Regions from separate parts of the Homo sapiens genome. Here regions 1, 2, 3, 4, 5 and 6 are each linked to region 7. The links come from fine-mapping of genetic effects on gene expression. A gene starts in region 7. Each other region holds a variant in brackets. All regions are shown on one strand. Distances are between the middles of the regions. Region 1 overlaps LOC101929710 (a long non-coding RNA gene). Region 2 overlaps CAST (calpastatin). Region 3 overlaps CAST (calpastatin). Region 4 has its middle 26 kb from the start of ERAP1. Region 5 overlaps ERAP2 (endoplasmic reticulum aminopeptidase 2). Region 6 has its middle 17 kb from the start of CAST. Region 7 holds the start of ERAP1 (endoplasmic reticulum aminopeptidase 1).

Evidence for each region.
Region 1: its variant is fine-mapped to the expression of ERAP1 in whole blood (INTERVAL, PIP above 0.99).
Region 2: its variant is fine-mapped to the expression of ERAP1 in whole blood (INTERVAL, PIP above 0.99). The same link has a PIP of 0.9 or more in T cells, esophagus mucosa, iPS cells, lymphoblastoid cells, monocytes and pancreas.
Region 3: its variant is fine-mapped to the expression of ERAP1 in whole blood (TOPMed, PIP above 0.99).
Region 4: its variant is fine-mapped to the expression of ERAP1 in fibroblasts (GTEx, PIP above 0.99).
Region 5: its variant is fine-mapped to the expression of ERAP1 in fibroblasts (GTEx, PIP above 0.99). The same link has a PIP of 0.9 or more in caudate, esophagus mucosa, subcutaneous fat, visceral fat and whole blood.
Region 6: its variant is fine-mapped to the expression of ERAP1 in whole blood (INTERVAL, PIP above 0.99).

Annotation. Positions count from the first base shown.
Region 1 is chr5:96,555,268-96,559,336 of GRCh38, reverse strand. The region is part of intron 4 of LOC101929710 (a long non-coding RNA gene); the gene reads right to left. It also overlaps a transcript of CAST not described here. Among named protein-coding and RNA genes, the nearest start is that of CAST, 110 kb to the left of the region's middle. The variant G/A (reference allele first, on the strand shown) is at 1,803.
Region 2 is chr5:96,774,612-96,778,680 of GRCh38, reverse strand. CAST (calpastatin) reads right to left here. Exons shown (of 32, transcript NM_001750.7): 32 at 3,998-4,069. It overlaps ERAP1 (endoplasmic reticulum aminopeptidase 1), which reads left to right. Exons shown (of 19, transcript NM_001040458.3): 19 at 2,130-4,069. The coding sequence ends at 2,285. Among named protein-coding and RNA genes, the nearest start is that of ERAP1, 31 kb to the left of the region's middle. The variant A/C (reference allele first, on the strand shown) is at 2,302.
Region 3 is chr5:96,759,985-96,764,053 of GRCh38, reverse strand. CAST (calpastatin) reads right to left here. Exons shown (of 32, transcript NM_001750.7): 25 at 1,682-1,780. It also overlaps a transcript of ERAP1 not described here. Among named protein-coding and RNA genes, the nearest start is that of ERAP1, 46 kb to the left of the region's middle. The variant A/G (reference allele first, on the strand shown) is at 1,910.
Region 4 is chr5:96,832,213-96,836,281 of GRCh38, reverse strand. It overlaps a transcript of ERAP1 not described here. Among named protein-coding and RNA genes, the nearest start is that of ERAP1, 26 kb to the right of the region's middle. RefSeq lists a silencer at 254-303. The variant G/T (reference allele first, on the strand shown) is at 1,554.
Region 5 is chr5:96,912,798-96,916,866 of GRCh38, reverse strand. ERAP2 (endoplasmic reticulum aminopeptidase 2) reads right to left here. Exons shown (of 19, transcript NM_022350.5): 16 at 4,069; 17 at 3,410-3,550; 18 at 1,098-1,179. It also overlaps a transcript of ERAP1 not described here. Among named protein-coding and RNA genes, the nearest start is that of LNPEP, 21 kb to the left of the region's middle. The variant G/A (reference allele first, on the strand shown) is at 1,569.
Region 6 is chr5:96,643,499-96,647,567 of GRCh38, reverse strand. It overlaps a transcript of CAST not described here. Among named protein-coding and RNA genes, the nearest start is that of CAST, 17 kb to the left of the region's middle. The variant C/T (reference allele first, on the strand shown) is at 2,011.
Region 7 is chr5:96,806,153-96,810,221 of GRCh38, reverse strand. It overlaps ERAP1 (endoplasmic reticulum aminopeptidase 1), which reads left to right and starts at 2,277. Exons shown (of 19, transcript NM_001040458.3): 1 at 2,277-2,362. It overlaps LOC124901033 (a long non-coding RNA gene), which reads right to left and starts at 2,764. Exons shown (of 3, transcript XR_007058879.1): 1 at 1,645-2,764. RefSeq lists enhancers at 1,597-1,666, 1,823-2,322, 2,323-2,824 and a silencer at 2,397-2,856.

The sequences.
Region 1 (4,069 bases), 250 kb after region 7:
ATGTTGAATAGAAGTGGTGAGAGAGGACATCCCTGTCTTTAGCCAGTTTTCAAAGGGAATGCTTCCAGTTTTTGCCCATTCAGTATGATATTGGCTGTGGGTTTGTCATAGACAGCTCTTATTATTTTGAGATACTTCCCATCAATACCTAATTTATTGAGAGATTTTAGCATGAAGGGTTGTTGAATTTTGTCAAAGGCGTTTTCTGCATCTATTGAGATAATCATGTGGCTTTTGTCATTGGTTCTGTTTATATGCTGGATTACGTTTATCGATTTGCATATGTTGAACCAGCCTTGCATCCCAGGGATGAAGCCCACTTGATTATGGTGGATAAGCTTTTTGATGTGCTGCTGGATTCGGTTTGCCAGTAGTTTATTGAGGATTTTTGCATCAATGTTCATCAGGGATATTGGTCTAAAATTCTCTTTTTTTGTTGTGTCTCTGCCAGGCTTTGGTATCAGGATGATGCTGGCCTCATAAAATGAGTTAGGGAGGATTCCCTCTATTTCTATTGATTGGAATAGTTTCAGAAGGAATGGTACTAGCTCCTCCTCATAGCTCTGGTAGAATTCGGCTGTGAATCCATCTGGTCCTGGACTTTTTTGGTTGGTAAGCTATTAATTATTGCCTCAATTTCAGAGCCAATCATTGATGTATTCAGACATTCAATTTCTTCCTGGTTTAGTCTTGGGAGGGTGTATGTGTCGAGGAATTTATCCATTTCTTCTAGATTTTCTAGTTTATTTGTGTAGAGGTGTTTATAGTATTCTCTGATGGTAGTTTGTATTTCTGTGGGATCTGTGGTGTTATCCCCTTTATCATTTTTTAGTGCGTCTATTTGATTCTTCTCTCTTTTCTTCTTTATTAGTCTTGCTAGTGGTCTCTCAATTTTGTTGATCTTTTCAAAAAACCAGCTCCTGGATTCACTGATTTTTTTGAAGGGTTTTTTTGTGTCTCTATTTCCTTCAGTTCTGCTCTGATCTTAGTTATTTCTTGCCTTCTGCTAGCTTTTGAATGTGTTTGCTCTTGCTTCTCTAGTTCTTTTAATTGTGATGTTAGGGTGTCAATTTTAGATCTTTCCTGCTTTCTCTTGTGGGCATTTAGTGCTATAAATTTCCCTCTACACATTGCTTTGAATGTGTCCCAGAGATTCTGATATGTTGTGTCTTTATTCTCGTTGGTTTCAAAGAACATCTTTATTTCTGCCTTCATTTCGTTATGTACCCAGTAGTCATTCAGGATCAGGTTGTTCAGTTTCCATGTAGTTGAGCGGTTTTGAGTGAGTTTCTGAATCCTGAGTTCTAGTTTGATTGCACTGTGGTCTGAGAGACAGTTTGTTATAATTTCTGTTCTTTTACATTTGCTGAGGAGTGCTTTACTTCCAACTATGTGGTCAGTTTTGGAATAGGTGTGGTGTGGTGCTGAAAAGAATGTATAGTGTGTTGATTTGGGGTGGAGAGTTCTGTAGATTTCTGTTAGGTCTGCTTGGTGCAGAGCTGAGTTCAGTTTCTGGATATCCTTGTTAACTTTCTGTCTCGTTGATCTGTCTAATGTTGACAGTGGTGTGCTAAAGTCTCCCATTATTACTGTGTGGGAGTCTAAGTTTCTTTGTAGGTCTCTAAGGACTTGGTTTATGAATCTGGGTGCTCCTGTATTGGGTGCATATATATTTAGGACAGTTAGCTCTTCTTGTTGAATTGATCCCTTTACCATTATGTAATGGCCTTGTCTCTTTTGATCTTTGTTGGTTTAAAGTCTGTTTTATCAGAGACTAGGATTGCAACCCCTGCCTTTTTTTC[G/A]TTTTCCATTTGCTTGATAGATCTTTCTCCATCCCTTTATTTTGAGCCTGTGTGTGTCGGCACATGATATGGGTTTCCTGAATACAGCACACTGATGGGTCTTGACTATTTATCCAATTTGCCAGTCTGTGTCTTTTAATTGGAGCATTTAGCCCATTTACATTTAAGGTTAATATTGTTATGTGTGAATTTGGTCCTGTCATTATGATGTTAGCTGGTTATTTTGCTCGTTAGTTGATGCAGTTTCTTCCTAGCATCGATAGTCTTTACAATTTGGCATGTTTTTGCAGTGGCTGGTACCAGTTGTTCCTTTCCATGTTTAGTGCTTCCTTCAGGAGCTCTTGTAAGGCAGGCCTGGTGGTGACAAAATCTCTCAGTATTTGCTTGTCTGTAAAGTATTTTATTTCTCCTTCACTTCTGAAGCTTAGTTTGGCTGGATACGAAATTCTGGGTTGAAAATTCTTTTCTTTAAGAATGTTGAGTATTGGCTGCCACTGTCTTCTGGCTTGTAGAGTTTCTGCCGAGAGATCCCCTGTTATTCTGATGGGCTTCCCTTTGTGGGTAACCCGACCTTTCTCTCTGGCTGCCCTTAACATTTTTTCCTTCATTTCAACTTTGGTGAATCTGACAATTATGTGTCTTGGAGTTGCTCTTCTCGAGGAGTATCTTTGTGGCATTCTCTGTATTTCCTGGATTTGAATGTTGGCCTGCCTTGCTAGATTGGGGAAGTTTTCCTGGATAATATCCTGCAGAGTGTTTTCCAACTTGGTTCCATTCTCCCCATCACTTTCAGGTACACCAGTCAGATGTAGATTTGGTCTTTTCACATAGTCCCATATTTCTTGGAGGCTTTGTTCATTTCTTTTTATTCTTTTTTCTCTAAACTTCTCTTCTCACTTCATTTCATTCATTTGGTCTTCCATCACTGATACCCTTTCTTCCAGTTGATCAAATAGGCTACCGAGGCTTGTGCATTGGTCACATAGTTCTCGTGCTGTGGTTTTCAGCTCCATCAGGTCCTTTAAGGACTTCTCTGCATTGGTTATTCTAGTTAGCCATTTGTCTAATTTTTTTCAAGGTTTTTAACTTCTTTGCCATGGGTTCGCACTTCCTCCTTTAGCTCTGAGTAGTTTGATCTTCTGAAGCCTTCTTCTCTCAACTCGTCAAAGTCATTCTCCGTCCAGCTTTGTTCTGTTGCTGGTGAGGATCTGCATTCCTTTGGAGGAGGAGAGGCGCTCTGCTTTTTAGAGTTTCCAGTTTTTCTGCTCTGTTTTTTCCCCATCTTTGTGGTCTTATCTACCTTTGGTCTTTGATGATGCAGATGTACAGATGGGGTTTTGGTGTGGATGTCCTTTCTGTTTGTTAGTTTTCCTTCTAACAGTCAGGACCCTCAGCTGCAGGTCTGTTGGAGTTTTCTGGAGGTCCACTCCAGACCCTGTTTGCCTGGGTATAAGCAGCGGAGGCTGCAGAACAGCGGATATTGGTGAACAGCAAATATTGCTGCCTGATTGTTCCTCTGGAAGTTTTGTCTCAGAGGAGTACCCAGCCATGTGAGGTGTCAGTCTGCCCCTACTGGGGGGTGCCTCCCAGTTAGGCTACTCACTTGAGGAGGCAGTCTGTCCGTTCTCAGATCTCCAGCTGCGTGCTGGGAGAACCACTACTCTCTTCAAAGCTGTCAGACAGGGACATTTAAGTCTGCAGAGGTTTCTGCTGCCTTTTGTTTGGCTATGCCCTGCCCCTAGAGGTGGAGTCTACAGAGGCAGGCAGGCCTCCTTGAGCTGTAGTGGGCTCCACCCAGTTTGAGCTTCCTGGCCGCTTTGTTTACCTACTCAAGCCTCGGCAATGGCGGGCACCCCTCCGTCAGCCTCGCTGCCGCCTTGCAGTTAGATCTCAGACTGCTATGCTAGCAATGAGCTAGGCTCCATGGGCGTAGGACCCTTCAAGCCAGGTGCGGGATATAATGTCCTGGTGTGCCGTTTGCTAAGACCTTTGGAAAAGTGCAGTATTAGGGTGGGAGTGACCCGATTTCCTAGGTGCCGTCTGTCGCCTCTTTCTTTGACTAGGAAAGGGAATTCCCTGACCCCTTGCACTTCCTGGGTGAGGCGATGCTTCACCCTGCTTCGGCTCACGCTGGGTGCGCTGCACCCACTGTCCTGCACCCACTGTCTGACACTCCCCAGTGAGATGAACACGTACCTCAGTTGGAAATGCAGAAATCACCCATCTTCTGTGTCGCTCATGCTGGGAGCTGTAGACTGGAGCTGTTC
Region 2 (4,069 bases), 32 kb after region 7:
TCAGCCCATAACTGACCCTGGCTTCTTGAAACCCTGCCTATTGTTCTTGCAGTAAATTCCAAATCCCTCCTTCCCATGTGTCCATGACCTTGAAGACCTGGCTTCTGAGGACCTCTCTGGTGCCAATTCCCACAGGCGCTCCTGGCTTACTCTCTCATAACACTGTAGCCACTCAGCCTCCTTCTGCTCCTGGGCTACCACATGTTTCTCCTGTCTTTAAGCCTCTGCACTTTTTATTCTCTCTGCCTGGCTTGCCCATTCCCCAACTTTTCACTAGAAAGGGGCATTTTATCTTTGAGAGGTCTCGGCTCAGATCACCTTCCCCAAAACCATGCTGTTCAATGCAGGCCACATCTCCTCAGTTACTAGCATACCCCTGGCATATTTTCTTCATAGCAGTTTATTTACAGTAATCATATTTACTGCTTGTATACCCCAAAAGACTGTAAGCTCCATGAGGGGAGGATGCTTGCCTGATTCACTGCTGCATCCTCAGTGTCTAGCACAGTAATTACAGCAGAGGGATGAATAAATATCAGAGTAAATATTGGTGAACAAATGGATGAGGTTAAGTCCCTGATACATGCTGGGTTTGGGGCTTTGCACTTTACCTGCATTATATAACTACATCCTTCACCACTGCTCTTCATTTTACAAATGAGGAGACTGGCTTCCATAGAAGTTAAATCATTTGCTCAAATCAAGTTAGTAGGATAAACCTGTTTTCCTATCCCTGTATTGTGCTACTTATTGCACAGAAATTGTTCTTAAAGAGCCAAGTCTGAATCAAATATTCAGTGGAGATGTTGCATTTCCAAGGCAGGTGAAGACAGAAGAGATGATTTTGGGTCAGGACAAGGGTAAGAGTAATGGTTAACAGCTGGCTTCGCTGTTGTAGAAGGTCTGTTTTTAGTGGAGCTATCATGATGAGCTCCTTTAGGATTAATGATTTGAACAATTAGTAAAATTATTGATGTGCTTTGTTGAGTAGTGCTCAGTGATTTTTAATCGACTGTGAATTAATCTTGCATTCTGAGAGCGTATGAAACAGTAGGTTGAGCTACAACTTAAAGTAGAGAGTGAAGTGTTTTCCAGGTTGCTACAGCAGGAGGCCATGCCTTCTGCTCATTGTAAAGTTGCACTGTATTGACATATAATTTTAAAACAACTCTGCATCATTTAAAATTGAATTCTGATCTTTCTAAAACCCATTCCTACTCCCCTCTTTATTCCCAAACTAATAATATGGTATTATGACATGGATTTCTAAGGAACTGGCTGTCTGGAATCTATGCTGAATAAATAATACATCATGGTCTACATTCGCTTCCTGAATACCAAATCAAAAATTGATGGATTAATGCTGTGAAAATTTATGGGAAAAGGATAATAACCCTTTAAGGTGAAACAGAATCGCACAATGGTCAATCTTGTGGCAAAGCCAGCCTATCTGTCATGTGAGCTCAAGGGGTGAATTAAGATACCCACAAATGAAACAAGAACAAACATATTTTTCAGGAGGTAGCCAAGAGTTTCTTATCTCTTTAAAATCATGGGGAACTTTATGTGGATTTTATCTTGAGACAACAATACATGAATTGTAGATTAGGATAAAAAAAATGGCAAGGTTTGGGTCTTACCGCCATAACTTGCTAAGAATCCCATTCCCCACAGTGTTTCTATAATAACATACAAGGCCAGGCCCATGGAGAAAGACAGCACTTACGTGGTGGAAACTGTTTTGCTTGGCAAAGAAAAGACTCTGCACATTCTGCTTTTTAGATATCATGTTTTTAAAAAACGAAGTTTGCATCTGTGAGAACAGAACAGAATAACACATTAAATAGACACAATTAAACCTTAATTATAAAATGGTAAACAGTGAAGTCTTTTAAAGTCTGGCAACTGAGAATAAACAAAAGAACTGCAGACAAAAAACAGAACTTGACATCATGAGGCATGAGCTCATTTCATACAGCTTATGTGTACATAATCCTATTCAGACAGCTGGGACTGCCTTCTATATAGAATTTTGACAAATGCTGGAATTTTGGCTTCAGTTTTAACTAAAGTTACATCTGATTAATGTGATAAAATTAATTTTTTAAAACCCACTTTTTCCTCACAAGGTAAAAGGATTCTTCAGCTCTTTGAAAGAAAATGGTTCTCAGCTCCGTTGTGTCCAACAGACAATTGAAACCATTGAAGAAAACATCGGTTGGATGGATAAGAATTTTGATAAAATCAGAGTGTGGCTGCAAAGTGAAAAGCTTGAACGTATGTAAAAATTCCTCCCTTGCC[A/C]GGTTCCTGTTATCTCTAATCACCAACATTTTGTTGAGTGTATTTTCAAACTAGAGATGGCTGTTTTGGCTCCAACTGGAGATACTTTTTTCCCTTCAACTCATTTTTTGACTATCCCTGTGAAAAGAATAGCTGTTAGTTTTTCATGAATGGGCTATCGCTACCATGTGTTTTGTTCATCACAGGTGTTGCCCTGCAACGTAAACCCAAGTGTTGGGTTCCCTGCCACAGAAGAATAAAGTACCTTATTCTTCTCATTTTATAGTTTATGCTTAAGCACCCGTGTCCAAAACCCTGTACCCCATGTTTATCATTCATAAACTGTTTCATCAGTCTCCTCGAAAGACTCTGAATAGTCGACTACTGAACAATGAACACCTGGATCTGAGACTAAGCCGGACGATGACTGGGTTAAAGCTCTCCCGGCTCACCCCTCCAGACCCGCTGCCCATCCCTCTTCCTTGCTCCATGCCCAGGGGCTGACTTGTAAAGGCCAAGTCATCAAGCTTTCTTGCCCTTTGGATGTTGGTCAGTGGGGAGCCGGAGAGCTGGAGCTGGGGTCGGAGGAGGTAGTAGGTGGAGGTGTTCTTCCCTGATTCCCTTGCGGGATGCCTCGGGCTGGCCTCCCCTGAGGGTCTTAGCTCCGAGAGGGGACCCTCTTTTCCACACAGCCTTCTCCACCTCTGGATTTTGGTAACTGCTCCCTCCTCATCCCTTCAGGATTAGTGGCCTCAGTGGGAGTCTGGCTTTTACTAGTCCTGGCGGACTTGTGGTTTCTACATAATGTGCTCGCACTTTTGCAAAAAATCTTTTTATAGAACCCTCCTCAGATAATTCTGAGTGAGTGTCATCTATTTCCCTGACTGGTACAGTATCTCTTCTGAAAAAGCAGAGTGCATTCAAGTCTGTAGGAAAACCCTTTTCTTAGGGAGGTGATTTTTTTTCTCTCTCTGCTTCTTATTTGGCCTACTTTACAATTTCTAACTAACTAGTTATTGGCATTTACTGACAGTAAATTATTGCAGTCACCAATAAATGATAGTACATTGTGAAACAAAATATTTGCTCATATTAGCAAATAGGACATTCTTTGGCTTTGAAGTCTTTCTTTCTTTTGTGAAGACTTCACACACGGTTGCTTCAGCACACAGTTGCTGCTCAGGTTTTATGTATAGATGATAATAATAGAAAGCACAGTTTACTAACATGGTAAACCAACGGAGTTCAAGTCAAGTCAGTTAATACCCTAAGAATTAGATTTTATTTCTTATTCTGAAAACTTGCTACACAGGGACTTATCTAACCCATAGTGTGCTCTGTTGCTGACTTGATTCAAGTTGCAGCGTGTTTTGCGCTGACTCTAAGGTGCGGAAATCCTCACACCTGGCAAAGGAGAATTCAAACTGAACTTTTTGAATATAAGGCAAAAACTTCAAGATAAGGGAATATGATTGATGATTGGTACGAAAAATGTCAAAATGTGTTCCCCTAATACACGACAAAATAGAGTGACTTCTGGACATAAATCTGCCATTTATTAAACCATTCACTACAACAAATAAATAGGTATAAAAGTGGAATTGGAATTTTTATACTTATTTGTTGTAGTGAATGGTTTAATAAAAATAGAAATCACTGGTAATTTCCACCCCAAACTAAACTATTTCCCTTCTTTTAAAAAAATACACAACCAAGATTTTAATGTAAAATATTTTGCTTTAATTGTATTTTATGCCTTGATTAATGAAACATGGAAATATTGATTTTC
Region 3 (4,069 bases), 46 kb after region 7:
GTTGATTTTCAAAATGTTTTCACATACACTATCCAGTTTTATTTGATGCCCACAATGGTTCTCAGTGAACTAAGCAGGCTTTTTTTTTTTGAGGTAAAAAGCTCAGGGAAGCTAAGTCAGTTGCTTGAAAACAAATTGTTAAAAAGTGAATAGAACCCAGGTCTTGGGACTGATAAAGCTTTTCCCTGTCATGCTTAGTCACATCCATGATCTTCTATTTTCTTTGAAGCAGTTTTCCTGTTGGAGTGATTTTATTACACAGATCTTTGAAATCATGTCTTCAAATGCTTTCAGTGTATGTAACACTGTTAGTAACAATCTAATAATCACAGCAAAGAAAGCTCCCGTGAATTATCATGGTTTATTTGACTCTTCGATTTCCTAATATTTTTATCTAAATAAAGCTTTATACCTTGTTTTAGTGACATCTTCAAATAAAATGTTAACTAAAAACAAGCCTCTCTGATGGGAAATGTGATCAGAGAAGTGTCATTGTAAAACCTACTTCTTAAAGGCAAAAAAGTTTTTGATTGCAAATGTTTACTGATAGCCTTCATCAGGGCAGAATCTCTGGCCTGAATATTAAGAACTGAAGTGTAAACGGCAGCCTAGGCTATTAATGATTCTTCCTTTCTGTTGCATGGGGACTTTCTTCATTGTGGGTGTGTTTACATACACACATGCACATGCACATGCACATACACACACACGGGGCATTTTACTGGTTTTAAGTGCTTTATTATAATCCAGGATTATAGCTGCTAATGGTAGAGCTGCCCGGGGCCAGGTCTGGGCTTTGTCATTTGTGCCTCTGGATATTTTCAGATGATCCTGAAGCTGACGCAACAGGATGAAAATCCATCAGAATCTCAGACTACAGCACTAAATATGCTTTGATGCTACATCAAACGGAATGGAAGCATAGCTGACTTCGCTAAAGTTACTTCATCTCCATCTAGCAAATGAGGCACTGTTCTCAACCAAAGGAGATGGGGATCTGGTTTAGGGCAATCCCTTTATAATTTGATGTGCTGTGGTCTCCTTGGTAATGTATAATTTGGTATTGCACAGGTGATTAGTCAAGGAAGTCTGGAAAAGCTTTGGTCCCACAGCCTTGCCTCACAGCATGTAAATAATTAAAACAATATTGATGCTGAGGTTCTTCTACTGCTAGTATGAAAGTGACAAATTTTTACTGGTGTGAATTGGGAAGAAAACAATGCTATTCCATGACGTTTGTAAAATGTTTGTAAAAGCTCAAACATGACGATTCCATAAAATAAACTTGAGGTTAAATAATGGGTAGTAAATTATAGAATGTATAAGAAAAAATATAAAGGAGAAAATCAATTATCAGGAAAGCTAAAGAACTTTTCAAATCTAGTAATTTGAATATAGACACAATGCACTTTATTGCACTTTCAATTCTTATAAAGCAACAATAATATTAAGGTCCTTGACTATGTGTACAATGTTTTCACATATATAGTTTCATTTAATCATTTCAAAGTTAATCTCTGCCATCTCGCTAAATCATCAGTCTCGGCTCTTCTGAAATAGAAGGTGCCTGATCTTCCTAATAATTCTGCCTATTTTCATTTGCTTTAAACAGGCGCCCTATTTTCTTTCTAGTTGTGGCTGCGCAAAAACATTTATCTCCCAAATAAGATGTGCTGCTTACCGAGGTATCACGGGGTGGGGCTCCAGCTTGGGTCGTTGAAGCTGGGGTTTGGGAAACCACTTCAGAGATGGCAGCAGCAAGTTTAGCATCTTCAAATTTCTTTTATTGAAAAAAATTTTATTAGTAACATGTTGTATATAAAATTATGAGCACAATGCCATCACTTAACTATAACTCTTAAAGATAGCTTAATGACTGTTTATTCTCTTGACCAAATAGACTCATAAT[A/G]ACATATAATTTTAAAAGAAATTTAAATTCTTTCTTCTCTATTGTATTATTTTATACAATTTGCTATTTCTATTTCCTTCTCATATTGATTATTCTAAATACTATGCAATAATATAACTTAGAGTTCCACGGTTTGTTTACACATTTCCTGTTGTACATTTAGGTTATTCAAAGTTTTCAGCTCTTTTAAAATTGCTCTGAATAAGTTCTAGTGAGTGAGTTATGGTGCTGGCTATATTTTGCTAAACTGCCCTCTCAAATGTTGCTAGGAATTCATACTGCGAAAAGCAATGAATAAGCATGCCTGTTTTCCCATGGCCTTGCTTGCCAGAATTTGACTTTTATTATGATAATCAGTGTAAAATGATATACTACTATTGCTTGTATATTGTGGTATACGGTGTCAGGTTTCAGGGTTTTTTTTCAACGTTAAATATTCTAGAAACTTTCTGAAATAATTTCTGTTTAAAAATATTGAATATTTGCTTCATTTCAAATACTCCCTTTTGACAAAAAAACTTAGGTATAACTGTTGATGAAAAACCAGAAAAAAGTCCAGAACTCTTTGGTGACTCCAACTATGGATAGCTTATTTTGAAAAAGGAGAATTGCAAATTTTACCAAAAGATGGAGAAAAGCACATTAAAAAGATACCAACATTCAGAAATTCATTTCAGCATGTTATTATTGGAAATTATTTAAACTAATTTAGATAACTATAAGATACTTATTGTCCATTTATACCCTGTAAAGCCGTTTTAGAATGTAATATTTTAGGTAATCCAAAATGTACTAAATTAAATTCATTTTTAGTTATGAGAAATCTTTGCTTATATGACAAATGAAAAGAATAACAAGTTGTCAAATGAAAAGAATGACATTGAAACATTTGTATTGTCTCTTCTTAAACTATCTTATTGACTTATTATTTAAGCCTTTTAATACTAAGTATGAAACAACCTATGGTCTGGAAATTTGTATCGCAAAGCTATATGTGCATATGTTATTTAATTCATCTAATGCTACACAAAAGCATAAAATAATGATTTTTCACTCTCTTTAAAAATACTAAATCATTTATGTCCATTTCTCAATTTTTTCATTGATCTATGCTTTGAGTTTGCTTTCTCAACATTATTGTATTTTCCACTTATTATTACTGTATAACATATGCTAGTGTTTAGTTGGATTAATCTTACCTAAAAGTACTGAAAAATGCTTTTTAGTACTTTTTCATATTTTATACATTTATTTTCCGAATGTATCATTGAATAATTTTATTGAGTTATAAAAGTATCTTATTGCTATTTAATAAAAAATTAACACATAAAATGACTTGAATTGTCATCATTCTTTTTAAGATATTTAGTTAAACTGACTTAATGTATGGCCTTCAATTTTTTTGTGTCCTTATTTTTCTGATCATTTCTCCTTTTATAGTTTACATTAAGTCTGATCTCATATTAATTACATTTTCTCATCTGTTGTTACTAATAAACATGGCATAATGTTACTTACAAATGTATTATCTACAAGTAGTGCTATCCACAAATATATTCAAATGTTCCCTTTTAATGTTTGTCATTTTTTTCATGTGTTGTTAATGATTCTTCCATGTGATAATAAGCAGAAATGACAATAAACTTTTCATAGTTTCTGCTTTTAAGGAAAATGCCTCCAGCATGATATTGAATATTTGATTCTGAAAACTAAAGACTCTTTAACAGATTAGGGGATTGCCTACTTTTTAAAAAGTTTTTATTTATAATATGAGTATATGTAAAATTTTAAATAGATCTTTTACATGGACATGATTATTTGTTTCTATTTGATATACCACTACAATATATTGACAGTTTTCCTGCTACTGAATCAATACTTATAATGGCAAATAATTTAACTGTTTGTTATATTCTATGTATGCTGTATGTAATTTTTACATCTACACATTTAAGTAACTTTAGCTGATACCGTTATATTTGTCAGATTTTAAGATTAGCACCATAATTACTCATAGAAGCAACTATGTGACCCCATCTTTTTCATGACATATTTATGCCACATAAGAACTGAGTGTTCAACAGTTAGAGTCATCTTTAAACCTTCAGTAGAAGGACAGTTTGAAAATCATTGCAATATTTTCTTCAGTCTTTTTTTAGG
Region 4 (4,069 bases), 26 kb before region 7:
TGCAGTGAGCCCAGATTGCACCACTGCACTCCAGTCTGGGTGACAGAGTGAGACTCTGTCTTGAAAACAAACAAACAAAAAACAGAAAAAAAAAAAAAAAAAAAACCAAAGAGGTGGAAAATCCCTGAAATGTAAAAGGATTTGTTTTCCGGTCATTGAAGGCATTCATTTTTTCAATACCAGAAATATTATTTCACATTTCTCTCTGACTCATGCAGGTTTCTCATCTCAGAAATTGTATCATAGTAGTATTAACCATGGAGAGAAGTTGTTCCTTCTTTTGTCAAGTGAAAGCAAAGGTGAAACGGAGGTCCCATATAACCTTAAAACCACAAGAGTGTTCTCAGATCATGTTTGGATAGAGTATGCCTGCAGTTGAAATTCAGGAAATTGATGCCCTGTTAGAACCACCTGTCTGCCTGGGTGTCCCTTGGAAAGCCTCTGTGGTTTCCCAGAGGTCCAACCCCTCCTTTTGAAGACCCTGCTCCAGTTGATAAAGTTTGTAGTACCTACTAAGTAGGATGGGCCTTTCCGACTTGTGAGCCTTCGTACTGCTGGCTTTTTGAAGGATTTATTCATGTTTGTACAACTGTAAATTTGTTATGATAGTACAGTAAAACATGGTTATACAGAAGGAAAACACACTGTAAACTTAGACTTAAAATCAAACACATAGAGGTATTATTAATATACAACAAAACAATCAGCAATAATTGTTTTAAAAAGCACCTGGAATTTTTTTTAACATCATTTCGTACAAATAAACTTCCCTACATGTAAGGATGTTCTACTTTGTTGTTTTTAAAAAGATATATGACAGAAAATCCTGACAACAGGGTTGGAATTTGAGACCAGCATCTGAGCTTCTACCTGGTCTTCATTTGTGTATTTTAAGATCCTTGTAGCAATTCATGTGGCTTAAAGGAGCAGTGTCTTGTCCTCAATCAAGTTCTTGTCAGGAACTTGACAGGTCCCTGAAGATCTCACCATGTGGCAAGGATCACTCAAACTCCAAAGAAGTTCTAAAGCAGCTTTGGTCATAACCAGCTCGACAACTCCAATTATCCTTTTAGCCTTCTAGGACAGTCAACAGCAGAGTTTTGTCTTTCTCAAGAAATATCATAATTTTATCTTAAGCCACAGACAGTGTCATGGTGTTACCTTCTTTACTGTGAAAGCAAACTTCTCAGCCACTAGTACACGCCTAACAGCCCCTTAGTATTCTTTGAAATGTGGAAAGGGACAGCACACAACAAATACTAAAGGCCCTCATCCTGGTGGTTCTCAGTCGGTTGTGTGCCTAAGAATCATGTGGGTGTTTCTTTAAAATGTAAATTTACAGTCCCCAAATCAGATTTTGATTCAATGGGTCTAAAAAACTGCCTATTACTGGGTAAGTATTATGCAGTGTTTCTTTGTGTAACAAAAAATTACATAGAAATGAATCCTCATTAGATGATTTATACAGTAGAGGTTAAACACCATGCAATTATGATTTAGTAATAACAGTGAAATAGAAATGTTATTCCTTCCCACAGCATCAAACACTTCCA[G/T]TGATAACATTCACAGGTTTATTGTGTATGTTTCTTCATTGAAGAAACTCAGCAAATTGCACTACCATTTATTTGGATTGATTTTATTTTGATTGAGTTCTCAAATCTTTTTTTATTCTTCCAGTAGTTCATTTTACTGTGAACTAGACCACAGGTAAAAGTTTTGTCTCAGTATAAGTTCACATACATCAAACTCAGGACTCCACTTACCATATCACAACTTAGCAGTTAACTTTAAGTTCCTCAAATTGGATATGATCTGATCACTGTGTTGAACTCACAGAAGAAATGAACATTAATAATAGGCCCATTGTGCACAATGCTCTTTATGGTCGGGGTTATTATTCTATACTGAAGATTAGAAAACTGAGACTGGAAAGCTTGACAAACTCTAACAAATAGTAAGTGGGAGAGCTGGAATAGGACCCCTTCTGCTGAATGCAGACTCATGAGTTGAGAAGGTTGACAAGTACACACATACCTTGGCAAGAAGGAAATTAATTTGTTGGAGAAGGAGATTCTTGTGGCAGAGAGAGGTATTTAAAAACATTTTTCTTTACTGAAAGCTTTAACTAACTGCGGAAGTCACTGAATTACTGAGGAACTAAATATCTGATGATGCTAACAAATTAAGGCTACCGCTTTCTCATTCTGTGAAGCTATATCTACCATTTTAAGTGTCAGTTTTTCATTTCAACTAGTTGTGGCTACCCAATTAGCAACTTTACTTCAACTGGCATGCATTTTGGTACAATCAGCAATGGATCATTACTACTACATTAATAAGTTGGGAGTATTCAATTTTTTTAATGAATACAAAGACAAAGATACGTGGACAGGAAAATCAGAAGACACATGGAGGGCTGAACCTGAAGGAAAGAAAATCCTGTCAGAATTCACATGCTATCTTCTTTTTCTTTTCTTTTTTTTTTTTTTCCGAGCCTTGCTCTGTCGCCAGGCTGGAGTGCAGTGGTGCAATCTTGGTTCACTGCAACCTCCGCCTCCCGGGTTCAAGCGATTCCCCTGCCTCAGCCTCCCAAGTAGCTGGGATTACAGGCACGCACCACCATGCTCGGCTAATTGCTATTTTTTTACACAAGGTGAGGTCAGGAACCATGTGACTAAATTCTATTTATTTTCATGTCTTCCCACTCCCTAAAATAGTGATCTGTATATAGGAGAACCTCAATGAACCAACATTTTGAATTGACTTTATGATTGAGAATATATATGTCCTTCAAAATAGTTCATTTTTATCTTGACACCATTTTGATCACCAATATAACCACATACAAAAAACCCTTTTGATATCAGTAAACAAACATACATTTCCAAAAATAACCTGTTGAGAAATATTTATATGATCAAAGCACAGAAGGTGTAATGAACATCTTTTACTCATGAAGCTCAAGACCCCATCCACTGGAGAAGCATAATGGAACACAAAGAGATTTGCAGCTGGACAACAGCAATCCTAAAGTGTCACCTTTGGCAGATTGAATAATGTAATTAATAATTTCAGTTTCTGTCTAAATATTGGTCTCCAAATTTATCAGCTATCTCAGTTTAGGCTGCTGTAACAAAGTAGCGTATTTTGGGTGGCTTATAAAAAACAGAAATTTATTTCTCACAGTTCTGGAGGCTAAAAGTTCAAAATTAAGGCATCAGCATGGCTGAGACCTCTTCCAGGTTGTAGACTGATGAATTCTTGTATCCTCAGGTGGCAGAAAGAGAGCAGGATTACTCCCCGGGATCCCTTTTATATGGGCACTAATTTCATTCACGATGGCTCCACCTTCATGACCTAATTAGTCTCAAAGGCCCCATCTTCTAATATCATCACATTGGGTGCTAAATTTTATCACATAAATTTTCAGGAGACACAAACATTCAGTCCATGACATCAGCCCAAAGGGATCATGAATGCAATTCAAGCAGTGTGGAAGAACATCGATAAAATCGAAGATATTTGTAGCATCACTGTCTCTTTGTACGTACAATGATATCTGCTACTTATAGCACATTTTCAGAGACTTAAATACATTTTACAAATCCTGTTCATGTTTATAAAGATGATTAAATATTTTCAAGGATAAAAGTCATAAAATAACACAAGCTGGAAGGGGCCCAGAAAGAATTTTTTCAAATCCTTTAATTTTATGCATTCCTCATTTCAAAGGAAGACTTTAAAGACATTTGTGGAAAAATCTGAATGTGTAGTTCTTCTATATTTTTACAACTTTTCTCAGTCTTTTGCAGCTATTATATATACCCCCAATTCCACTCAATTTAATCAAGACTTTCCAAAATATTCGACTTGGTGTTCATAGGTGCAACATTCTATTCTACCCATTGATTTAATAACATTTTATTAACTTAAGTAACTACCTAAAGAATACAACTGGCAAGTCAGGTTTGGAACAAATGTAACTGCCTCCTGGCCAGCATTCATCTCAGGGGACAGAAGTTCTATCATACACCAGGAGCAAAGTTTGCTTTGATACCAGTCAATATGT
Region 5 (4,069 bases), 110 kb before region 7:
TTTAAGTTCAGGAATTCTGAATTTGCCTAAAGGGTAAATAAATTCAAGATTTATTGTGAAAAGAAGGTGCAAAGACTATAATGCTTTAAAAAAAAAAAAAAGATAGGCTGGTGGCTCACGCCTGTAATCCCAGCACTTCGGGAGGCCAAAGTGGGTGGATCACGAGGTCAGGAGATCGAGACCACCCTGGCTAACACAGTGAAACCCCATCTCTACTAAAAAAAAATACAAAAAAATTAGGTGGGCATGGTGGCAGCCTCCTGTAGTCCCAGCTACTCGGGAGGCTGAGGCAGGAGAATGGCGTGAACCTGGGAGGCGGAGCTTGCAGTGAGCCGAGATCGCAAGCCACTGCACTCCAGCCTGGGCAACAGAGCAAGACTCCGCCTCAAAAAAAAAAAAAAAAAAAAAAAGATAACTAGAATTACCAACAATAGTTTTGTTAAAAAGATCATTAAGTACGCTTCCAAACTTTAATATAATCACTCTTGCATCGTAATACAATATGAAAGAAATAATACAAAAGGGCTCACCTCTCAAGTCTATTTTCATTTTGAATGCTATGAATACACGTATTTTAAGTATTTTAAGAGTCAGGGGCTTTTTTTTGCTGTTGTTTTTTGTTTTTGTTTTTGTTTTTTGTTTTTTTGAGATGGAGTCTCACTCTGTCACCCAGGCTGGAGTGCAGTGGTGTGATCTCAGCTCACTGCAACCTCCGCCTCCTGGGTCCAAGTGATTCTTCTGCCTCAGCCTCCCAAGTAGCTGGGACTACAGGTGCGTGCCACCACATTCTGCTAATTTTTGTATTTTTATTAGAGACAGGGTTTCACCATATTGGCCAGGCTGGTCTCGAACTCCTGACCCCATGATCTACCTGCCTTGGCCTCCCAAAGTGGTGGGATTACAGGTGTGAGCCACTGTGCCTGGCCAAGTGTCAGGTTTTAATCCTGTCCCTTCCATTTACTTGCTATATGGCATTGGACAAACAACTTTTTTAAAAACTAAAATGAGAACTTCAAATCAGATTATATCTAAGTTTACTTTCAATTCCACAATTTGAACATTTATTTTGAAATTGTTAAAAACAGAAAGTCACAAACCTCTTGCAACTTATCCTTGGAAGAAAAGTGAGCTGTTGTGCCAGAGATGATCATCCTTATGTCATATGAGCCCAAGTCAAATCTGAAAATAAAAAGAAACACCATAGAAAGTCATAGAAATACTGACCTTATGTTTATTATATCATGTATTATATTTTTAATGTATATTAATAACTATGTGATAAGCTTGTGTATTACAATAGATACGGTGAATTACCATAATAACATTCATCCAGTACAATTCTAAAGCTGTGAAACTTATCAAATTTTACTATAAAATGAAAATGTAGATACAGCTTCTTTGGGAAATATGGTTAGTTATTCAGCAATGTTTATGTTTAATTTTATGTTTCTGTTTAAAGCAGTGTTCCCTACTTTTTTTGTTACTACATACTCCAGTCAGTAAAGATTTTTTGAGCAAGAACTTCCCAATATACATATTTTTATTTATAAATTATATGGGCTGGGCGC[G/A]GTGGCTCACACCTGTAATCCCAGAACTTTGGGAGGCCGAGGTGGGTGGATCACCTGAGGTCAGGAGTTTGAGACCTGCCTGACCAGCATGGAGAAACCCTATCTGTACTAAAATACAAAAAAATTAGCTGGGCATGGTGGTGCATGCCTGTAATCCCAGCTACTCAGGAGGCTGAGGCAGGAGAGTCACTTGAACCCGGGAGGTGGAGGTTGCAGTGAGCCAACATGGCGCCATTGCACTCCAGCCTGGGCAACGAGAATGAAACTCCGTCTCAAAAAAAATAAATTAATTAAAAAAAATTATATGCATATGTTAAGGTATGGTAAAAAAATTAAAAGCATGAAATAAATAATGTATTTATTTAACTTTTTATACTATATATCATTTATGTTTATAAATTTATAACAATATAAAATTTAAAATTAGATAAGAAATAATAGACACTCTAATGTATTGCACTTCTTGCACACTTCCTCATCCCATTTTGGATACCACTGTGTTTAAACATTGTGTTTAGTGGGGCAATGTTACTTGGTTGAACTCTCATTCACGGCCACAGAATGCATCCTTCAACCCAATGTTTTATATATGGAAAACTTGTACTACAGGTCAAAGTGATTCATGTTGATAAAGCAGAGCACAGTTACAGCTCAGAAAAAAATATGGTTCCAAGTCTAGGCTCTGCACATGGTTGGGCAGGGGCATCATTTCCTGTTTAAAATGAAATCCACAGCATTGTAGATTAAGGCTGATCATTTCAGGAGGAAAATGACAATCATGAAAACAGACAAATCAATGGCTCAAGTAGAGTTTTAAAGGAAACATACACAAACATACATATTAAAGCAGTTTCTATTTGGTCTCATGTGGACGTCAACTCCTTGAGCATTTGGGAGAGGAGTGGAAATGTGCTTTTTGCTTACGCAAAGCTGTGTGAGGACTCTAAACCTTCCACGGCTATGAAATGAAAGAGAAGGAACTAGGAATTAATGATATCAGGGATGCTAACTGACCCTGACATAAACAAAGCAAATCATACCTCTCTGATTCAAGATATTTTCATATAAGTCATAAATGACATTTTAGATTTGGATGAGGAATGGCTGAATGCCTTATAGGGTTTTGTGATTGTGTGTGTGTGTGTGTGTGAGAGAGAGAGAGAGAGAGACAGAAAGCAATGCTGTCTTATACATTCCATTCCAACAAAATCTAATCATTATTGGTTATTTCTGAGGGATATTTTAGATCCAGGAACATATTGAAATGAGCTCCAGTTCTCCCCAAAGTTGAAACCCCAGAAAAGACTCAGAACCAAAACAATTTGGAGGGAGGGCTCCCCAAACACTCCTGACTAGGTTTCTTTCACCTGAACCAAGGTCTCCACTGTGCCACCTCCACAGGGGCTCTAGGGGTGAGGAGTAGCTCTTACCAAAATTCCTGAGATTTTCCCCCAGTACAAAACTGCATTAACAAATGAGGCCACATATGTGTGATGCACTATACAAGGCATCTTGGGATTCTTCTGGGCTGAGGAGAGAGCCAAGAAGGGATGGTGGGAGGGGGCTGATGACTGCATTTAATTCAACTCGGACTTGATGCCAGTGGTTTCTTGCCTGGACTGAATGAGAGAAGGCTGTTTCCCATTCCCTTATTCTCATGTCTCTCCCTTACTCCTGGACAGGATAATTTGGGCTAGGGAGTTTCAAAGTTGACTCCACTGAACTATTTGGATACAAATGGTATTATTTATATGCTTTGAGAAACATTTGATTACACTTGGTTTGAGGCAACTGAGACATCTGCATGGAAGAACAAACATTGGATGAAAATGAATACCAACTTTTTCAGAAGATGGGTCCAATTTTCTCTTACAAAATCCCATGCTAGTTGCTGCCCCTTTGGACGTCTGGCAATCGCATGAAGGAGAGCTGCCAAGTTCTGTGTCTTGATAACCTTTCCTTCCATTCCTAGTTCAATTAACCTGAAGAAAGAAAAATAATTTGTTTCTAAATAGTAGGTATTATGTACATGGACATTAACTCAAGCCACCAATATATTAAAAGAATAGAACAGAAAGAGGCATGATAAAAGTATAATTACCAATTTTTTAATGTTTCAATTAAACTTTTACTTTTTTAGAAATAATTTTTATTTTGTTCCTATCAAAAACATTTACTTATTATTTCAAATAAGTTTGATTAGCATCATTTACACATCTTATATGCAAGAATGTATTTTTACAACAATAATTTTTCTTCAAGTTTCTGAAGATAAAACATAACCGCTTGTCTAGTCTCAATCATATGATTAATAACTAGGGAATACCTGTTTTCACTATTTGCATTTTGTCAATATATTCTTTTCTGAAAGTAAAGTTAAAGCCATACACATTCTGATTCAATTATCTTATGCCTTTAAAACTGGTGGCTGAAGTTTTAGTGACTTCACTGAATTTGTGTCAGTTTACTTATAACAATTTAGTTAAATTATTGAACTTACT
Region 6 (4,069 bases), 160 kb after region 7:
CCAAATAAGGTCGTATGGGGTTAGGACTTCAACATATTCATTTTGGGGGGACACATTTCAACTCATAACACTTAGAAAAAGGAAACTGATCTAATCATAAAAAGTGATACTGGCTAGAACAGCACAAGGTGGTATAATCGAAGGTTCATATAGGTAAAAATCCTATTAAATCTAAAACGGTTTTACAAAGCAAGGAAACTTCCTTGCAACAAGGCTATTTTTACCACAGAACTGTACTAGGTGTTAATTTGAATAACAAGTCATCCTCAGTGTATGATCTTGTACAACCAATGCCTTTGAAGTCTGGATTGGATGTAATTAACAAAAACGATATACCGAAACCTAAGGACTCCGGTTGAGACTGCAGGTGTGGAAAATGGAGCTGTGGGAGAGTTGGGGTTTTTGTTTCCTCCGATCCGTGTATGTCACTAAGCAGCAACAAATCACCCAACAAGCCAGTGCCCCTAACTCCATCACAAACATGCCAGCAGTTCCCAGCAGAAAAGTCAAGCCACTTATAGAAACAAAAATAATCCAAGCCTCAAAATGATTCAAGAAGATGGTGAAATGGGAGATGGTATATTCATTACAACTTTTCATTTGGTAGTCCGCAACAGAGAGGTTGGGCATCAGTAACAGTTTCACCTTCACCTCCTATCGTTTGGCTAAGTGATTTCTAGAAGTACAAGTTACTTCAGCAAAAGAACTGGAAATTCTAGAGATTCTAAGTGATAAGCTTTAACCTACACATTATACATGCACTTGATTTATAATATTTATTTTTTATTGGATATCTAAAATTATAATAGACAAAGAAATGCTGTGTTTAAAACAAATAAGTTGAATAATAAAAATCAATCGATGATGAGAGGCAAATATTCCCTGTTTACATGTGCAGCCCCACAACACCTCCCCAGAGGCAACCACTATTTATAATTTTTTAATATTTTAATTCCAGGAACAGCCAATAGAGCAATTTATATGTGGTTATGAAGAAAATTTATATAAAGAATATTTCTGTTTTTACAGACATACTAGAATACTATCTACACCATTTTTCACATTGCCTTTTTCATTTAACAATACATCTTGCAAGACAGTCCACATCCCCTTACAGAAATCTACCTTTTAAATGACTGCATAACATCTTATGTAATTGCTTCATACTACATTTAACTGTTGCCTGGTGGTAGCCACTTAGCTGGTTTCAGTTTTTCCCTGTTATTAAACGATGCTGTAATGAACAGTTTTGCAGGTATCTTTGTGCCTGTGCATATGCAAGTATATTTGTTAGAGAAATTTATAAAAGTGGAATATCTAGTCAAAAGATGCATAATTACAACATTTTGGACAGATATTTGCCAAATTACCAACCAAAATTTTTGCACCAGTTCAACGATGTGGGATAGTACCTCCTTCTCTGCAATATTGACGGTGGTGTGTTTTATCAATTTTTTTATCTTTGTAATGTAATGCGACAAAAACATTACCTCCTTGTGGTTTTAATATATATTTGTCTTATTTTGAATCAGGTTAGAGCATCTTTTCACATGTTTATAAAGTATATTTCTTTTTCTGTGAATTCTATATTTGTGACCTTTGCCATGTTTCTATTGAATTGTTGGTTTTATTATTGGCTTACAGTTATTTTTGTCTTTATAGATTTTTAAATTATTATTTTAAAATATTATACATATTTTTAAAATTTTAATTTAGTCAAATTTATTAATCTTTTCCTTTCAAGTTTCTATGTTTTGTGTCTAGACCTTTAGAGAGGTCTTTCCACTCCAAGATTATAAGAAATACTCTCTTTTATTTTCCCTTGGTATTAGTAAAGTTTGTTATACTTTCACAGCGTTTTCCCACTAATTAATATTTTAAAATAAAAAAGGTAATTGTTTAAATTTACATTACACCTCTTGGAAAGCAACAGTCATATTATCTTATAATTTAAAATATTTATTTTTCCAAACCATTAGAATCCAAAAATTTAAAGTTAAGTATTAAAGA[C/T]GAAAGGAAAAGAGAATCTCAGTCAATTTTAATAATCTTAGAGAATCTTGCAAATGAATATTATGTTTGAAACGAATAAAATAGGAATAATTTTCACATTTAAAAATTATTTGGGCATGCACTGGACTTAGTGACTTGCTTCCAAATAATATAGAAAGGGCGAAATAATAACATTGAAGTGGAAAAACCTGAAAGACACCACCTTAACCGCGTGATGAATGTTGACAGCACCAGTGGTAAGTCATGTGGATCTCATGTGGAATGTGACAAGAAGGCCGCTTTAGCACTGTGATAATCTTCCCCAGACTCATAACTCCAGCCTACTCATGAGAAAAACATCAGATAAGCTCATATCGAGAGATATTTTACAAAATACTAGATGTACTCCAACTGTCAAGGGCATGAAAAACAAGGAAAGTCTTAAAAACTGTCACAGGCCCCAGAGGAGTCGAAGGGGACATGATGACTAAATATAGTGAGTATGTAGTATTGGATTGGGACCTCCAACAAAAAAAGGGAATTAGTGGAATAATAAATCCAAATGAAGTCTGGAGTTTTGGGTTTTATTTGTTTGTTTGTTTTTTGAGACACTCTCACTCTGTCACCCAGGCTGGAGTGCAGTGGCCCGATCTTGGCTCACCGCAACCTCTGCCTCCCAGGCTCAAGCGATTCTCCTGCCTCAGCCTCCTGAGTAGCTGGAATTACAGGCACGTGCCACTACTGCTAGGCTAATTTTTGTATTTTTAGTAGACACGGGGTTTCACCATGTTGGCCAGGCTGGTCTCAAACTCCTGACCTCAAATGGTCCACTCGCCTCACCCTCCCAAAGTGCTGAGATTACAGGCGTGAGCCACGGCGCCTGGCTTGGAGTTTCATTAATAGTAATATCCTGATGTTGGTTTCCTAATTTTGACAGATGTATCACCATAATGTAAGATGATAACATCAGGGGAAATTGAAACTGAGTGAGGATTATAGGTGGATTCTCCATACCACCTGCACAACTTTTATGTCAGTCTAAAATTACTCCAAAATAAACTGTTATAAGAAAAACAATTTTATGTTTAACAAGACTTTTCTGGGAATGGACACCGCCAAAATATTTGTAGTAAATTTTTATTTGTAATAATAATTTTTAAAGGTTAAAGATAATTTTCTAGCAGTTGCTGGCTGTAGCTGACCAACATGCCATTTGAATCCACCAAGTACCAAAACTACTTCTGCTGTGAATGCCTTATTCTTGGAGAAGCAGTAAATATAAAATGGGTAAAGAGAAATTTAAATGACAGACTTTCACTGTACAAGAAACTTAATTAAAGACAAATTTGTTGTGAAGTATTTTTTTAAATAATGGTTTTATTCAAATATAATCCCCATACCATACAATTCACCCATATGAAGTATACAATTCCATGGTTTTTAGTATATTCACAGAGATGTGAATGATCAGTCAATTTTAGAACCTTTTCATCACCTCAAAAAGAAACCCTCAATTTTTTTTTTTTTGTTTTTGAGACGGAACCTCGTTCTGTCCCCCAGGCTGGAGTGCAGTGGCATGATCTTGGCTCACTGCAACCTCTGCGGCCTGGGTTCAAGCAATTCTGCCTCAGTCTCCTGAGTAGATGGGATTACAGGTGCACACCAACATGCCCAGCTAATTTTTTGTGTTATTATTATTATTTTTTTGAGATGAAGTCTCGCTCAGTTGCCAGGCTGGAGTACAGTGTCATGATCTGGGCTCACTGCAATCTCGGCCTCCAAGGTTCAAGCGATTCTCCTGCTTCAGCCTCCCAAGTAGCTGGGATTACAGGTGCGCGCCACCACACCCAGCTAATTTTTATATTTTTAGTAGAGACAAGGTTTCACCATGTTGGCCAGGTTGGTCTCCATCTCCTGACCTCGTGATCCACCCACCTCGGCCTCCCAAAGTGCTGGGATTACAGGGGTGAGCCATTGCGCCTGGCCCATTTTTTTGTATTTTTAATGGAGTTGGGGTTTTACCATGTTGGTCAGACTGGTCTCGAACTCCTGACCTCAGATGTTCCACCTGTCATGGCCT
Region 7 (4,069 bases):
AGGGCTTTGAAACTAGAAGTGAATGCTGCCAAATCCTCTGACTTATCGCTCTTTGTAGTGCACTTCAACTCTAAAGACGAAATCACGGCCAGGGCGACAGGCTAAAGTCTGAGTCAGGGTGAGCTTTTGGGGAAACGGCGTGGAGCGGGTGGTGGTGTCAGCTCTCTCCTCGCCTACACTTCAGCTCCTTTCTGCCCACATCCATTCAGGGCATTGCCCTGTTTGTCTCCTCAGCTGTCTTCTGTATTAACCTCCAGCCTGTTGGGTGCATTCAGTTCTGCCAGCTGGACTTTCAATATGTATTTAAAAAGACACATAAACAAAAAACAAAAACAAAAACAAAAAAACTTTACTAGAAGCCAAAGGAAAACCATCATATTCAAAAATATAAATATAAAAGCAAAGAAATGCATACATTTACTGGACAAAGAGGTCTCATCTTGAGTAAACTGGGAGCACTCCGAGATGTCTGGAGGTCTTGGAGGCTACACGCTATCCATTGATACCTCCTGTCAAATTCTGAACATGCAGAAATTACCAGATCTCAAAGTCCTCATTTCTTGTTGAATTTTAGTGAAAAAAACTTCCCTGGATCCCACCGTAGTTGAGTCTTGGAACAGGGTGTTAATCTTTATATTATAAAATGTCCTTGACTAGAGATAATAGGCAGTATGAAACATTATATTTTTAAAAAGGAAACATAATATTGAAAAAAAAAGAGAAATACTGTTGCAGTGACTTGGAATCCCCAGTTCTCAAAGGGAAGAAGGCCAATAAAGAAGTGGGAGAAGAAAGTCTGAGAACCGCATGAAAAGGGTCCTGTTCCCACTAGGACCATGGTCCACTCACCAAATTATCAGAGACGTTTGAACCAGAGCAACTCCATCTTGAATAGGAGCTGGGTAAAATAAGGCTGAGACCTACTGGGCTACACTCCCAGGAGGTTAGACATTCTAAGTCACAGAATGAGATAGAAGGTAGGCACAAGACACAGGTCATAAAGACCTTGCTGATAAAACAGGTTGCAGTAAGGAAGCTGGCCAAAACCCACCAAAACCAGGATGGCAATGAGAGTGTCCTCTGGTCGTCACTGCTACGGTCTCACCAGCTCCATGACAGTTTACAAATGCCACTGCAACGTCGGGAAGCTACCCTATATGGTCTAAAAAGGGGAGGCATGAATAATTTCCCCCGCTTAGCATATAATCAAGAAATAACCCTAAAAATGGACAACCAACAGCCCTTGGGGGTGCTCTGCCTATGAGTAGCCATTCTTTTATTCCTTTAGTTTCTTAATTACTTGCTTTCACTTTACTCCATGGACTCCCCTCAAATTCTTTCTTGCGCAAAATCCAAGAACCCTCTCTTGGGGTCTGGATCGGGACCCATTTTCGGTAATAAACTTGTAGCATTTGGTGTTTTAATGTTTGTGTTTTCTTGACTTGTTACCTCATTTAGCCTCAACTGTTTAAAGATGGTCTTTTTGGCCATTTTATTCAGCTTTAATTGTTCTAAGGGGAGTGAAGAAATGGTCATTTACTTTGAAAAATCAGAGGGAACGTGTTGATGCGGGAAGCAGCTAATCCTTGGGGTACAGTGGCCCTTGGTAGTGCAGGAAAGTCCTGGGGGCCACCTCTAACCCACCTTCCTCCTCTACAGCATCTCCCACTGTAGTCATTCTCTACCGAAGCCCCAGAAGGTGCGGCACTTTGCCACGACAGAGTACTGGGTTCATGTTTCTTTCCGAGGCGGGCCAAGAGCTCTCAGCCCACTGGCAGTGGCGAGATGACGGACACCCAGCGAGTCCAATGGGCGTCGAACGCGTCTAGGCTTGGTGGACTTGTCAGCGCCTGCCTGGCTTCGGTCCCCAACTTGAGCACCGGCCCTTTCCTGCATGCCCCTAACCCTCGCAACGCTAAACAGTGAAAAAAAAAAAAAGACAAAAACAAAAAGCATCTCAACACACACACACACACACACACACACACACACACACACACACACACACACACACACACACACACACACACACACGGATCCGCGTTCAGAAAGGCGTGCACTTCCTACGCCTGATCCCCCGCATCGCAACCTCGCAGCTTCCCCGGCGTGCAGCGCTCATTTACCAATTCCCTTCCTGGGAGTTGCGGCTTCCCTCGCTCGGCCCCACTCCCGTTTACCCTTTCCCCAGCTCCCGCCTTAGCCAGGGGCTTCCCCGCCTGCCGCTAGGGCTCGGGCCGAAGCGCCGCTCAGCGCCAGCCTGCCGCTCCCCGGGCTCCACTTTCACTTTCGGTCCTGGGGGAGCTAGGCCGGCGGCAGTGGTGGTGGCGGCGGCGCAAGGGTGAGGGCGGCCCCAGAACCCCAGGTACAGCGCGCTCGAGCCGCGGGTAGGGGACTGCGGGCCGGGAGGAGAGCGCGGCACCCGCCCCTTCCCTGCGCCCGTCAAGTGGGGGGCTGAGGGCCTGGGGCACGGGAGGAGGGAGACGGGGCACGGGAGGAGGGAGACGGGGCGCGGGAGGAAGGCGACGGGGCGCGGGAGGAAGGCGACGGGGCGCGAGACAGGGCGCGGGAAGGGCGGGGGGAGTCGCTGGCTAGGCCCGAGTCCGCGGGGTGCCCGGCGGGTTGGCGGCGGGCCCACCCCTGCCGGTCCCTGTCCCTGTCCCTCCGGGCGCGTGGCCGGTGCGCCTGCTTCACGGGTCTCCCCGCTGTTCGGCCGGCGGGAGCCTCCCTCAGCGCTCCGCCTGGCGCCTGGATGCCTGCCAGTCCTGCAGGCCACCGACGCCCGCGCGAGGCCAAAAGGCGGGGTGGGGCGGGCAGCTGGCTCGGGCTGAGGAGGGCACCTGCCCATAGCTGCTAGAGAAACCCAGAGGCTTTGGGTTAAAGACTCTGGTGGGGTGGGATGCGCGGGCCGTGTGTGTTCTTAAGGTCACTTCCCTCCCTGCTTCTCCTGTTCTTCTGGTCAGCAATTCTCTCTCTCCCCTTCGCTCTGGCTCTGGCTGGGTTTTATTCAGATAAAGCACCTCTGTTGACGCAAATTAAAAGTTTCCTATCTGGGTGCCTCACTGGCCAGGTGGTCCTACAAAGTTAATTCCATGAGGGGAAGGGGGAGAGCACACACTTCCTCACGCTTTTGGATTTCTTTGTGTAGGCTAGGTTCAGAAAGAAATTATCTGTTTCCTATTAAACACCCAGAGGATTCGCTCTGAACTCAGGACGTGGTCAACAATTAACAAAACAACAAAACAAAACAAAACAAAACAAAAAACTTGAAAATTGGGCACAGTTGTCTCTTGCCTGAGGATTTTTAATTAGTATAAGTAGCACATTTTCAGGTGCGGCCTGAATAGAAACATTCTAGTACTTTTTTTTTTTTCAAATTAATCCAGCATTTTTATTATTTACCAACAGTGCTTGTTAATTTCATTGTTCAGGAAATTCTGGAAGAACCTCAATTACTTCTTGATGATCTATTTCATATACTATAGTGCCCCAATAAAAGGAAGGGAGGCAGAGGTTGCAGTGAGCCAAGATCGCACCACTGCACTCCAGCCTGGGAGACAGAGCGAGACTCCGTCTCAAAAAAAAAAAAAAAAAAAAAAAAGAGGGATCTTGGTGAAGCTGAAAAAGCAGGGAGTTTATACTCACACAGATGTGGATTGCATTCCAACAAGTTGTGTGAACTTAGCAAAGTTACATGAATGGTTCTTTGCTTCAGTTACCCCACCTTGAATGAGAATAATAGGCTATTAGAGAGAGTGAGCATGTGTAAAGTGCCTGGCACTTTGGAGGAGCTTAGTAAATATTAGTTCTTTTTCCTCCTTGGCTTCTATTCCTTTAAGTGTTAGTGGAGTGTAACTTCAAAGAGAATTGTACTTCTCTTGGGAAGAGCTGCTTATATTGAGTAGACTACTGTTTTTGAGAGCTTTCTTTTTTTTTAACTGCCTCCCTTTCAGAAAATTGTTAGTAAAACCAGACCCTAGGAGACCAGCCAGAACCATGAAATGCCATGTTTCAAACTGGAACACTTACTATTGGAAGCAAAGCCAAACAAGAGCTAATTTTTCAGGGGAAG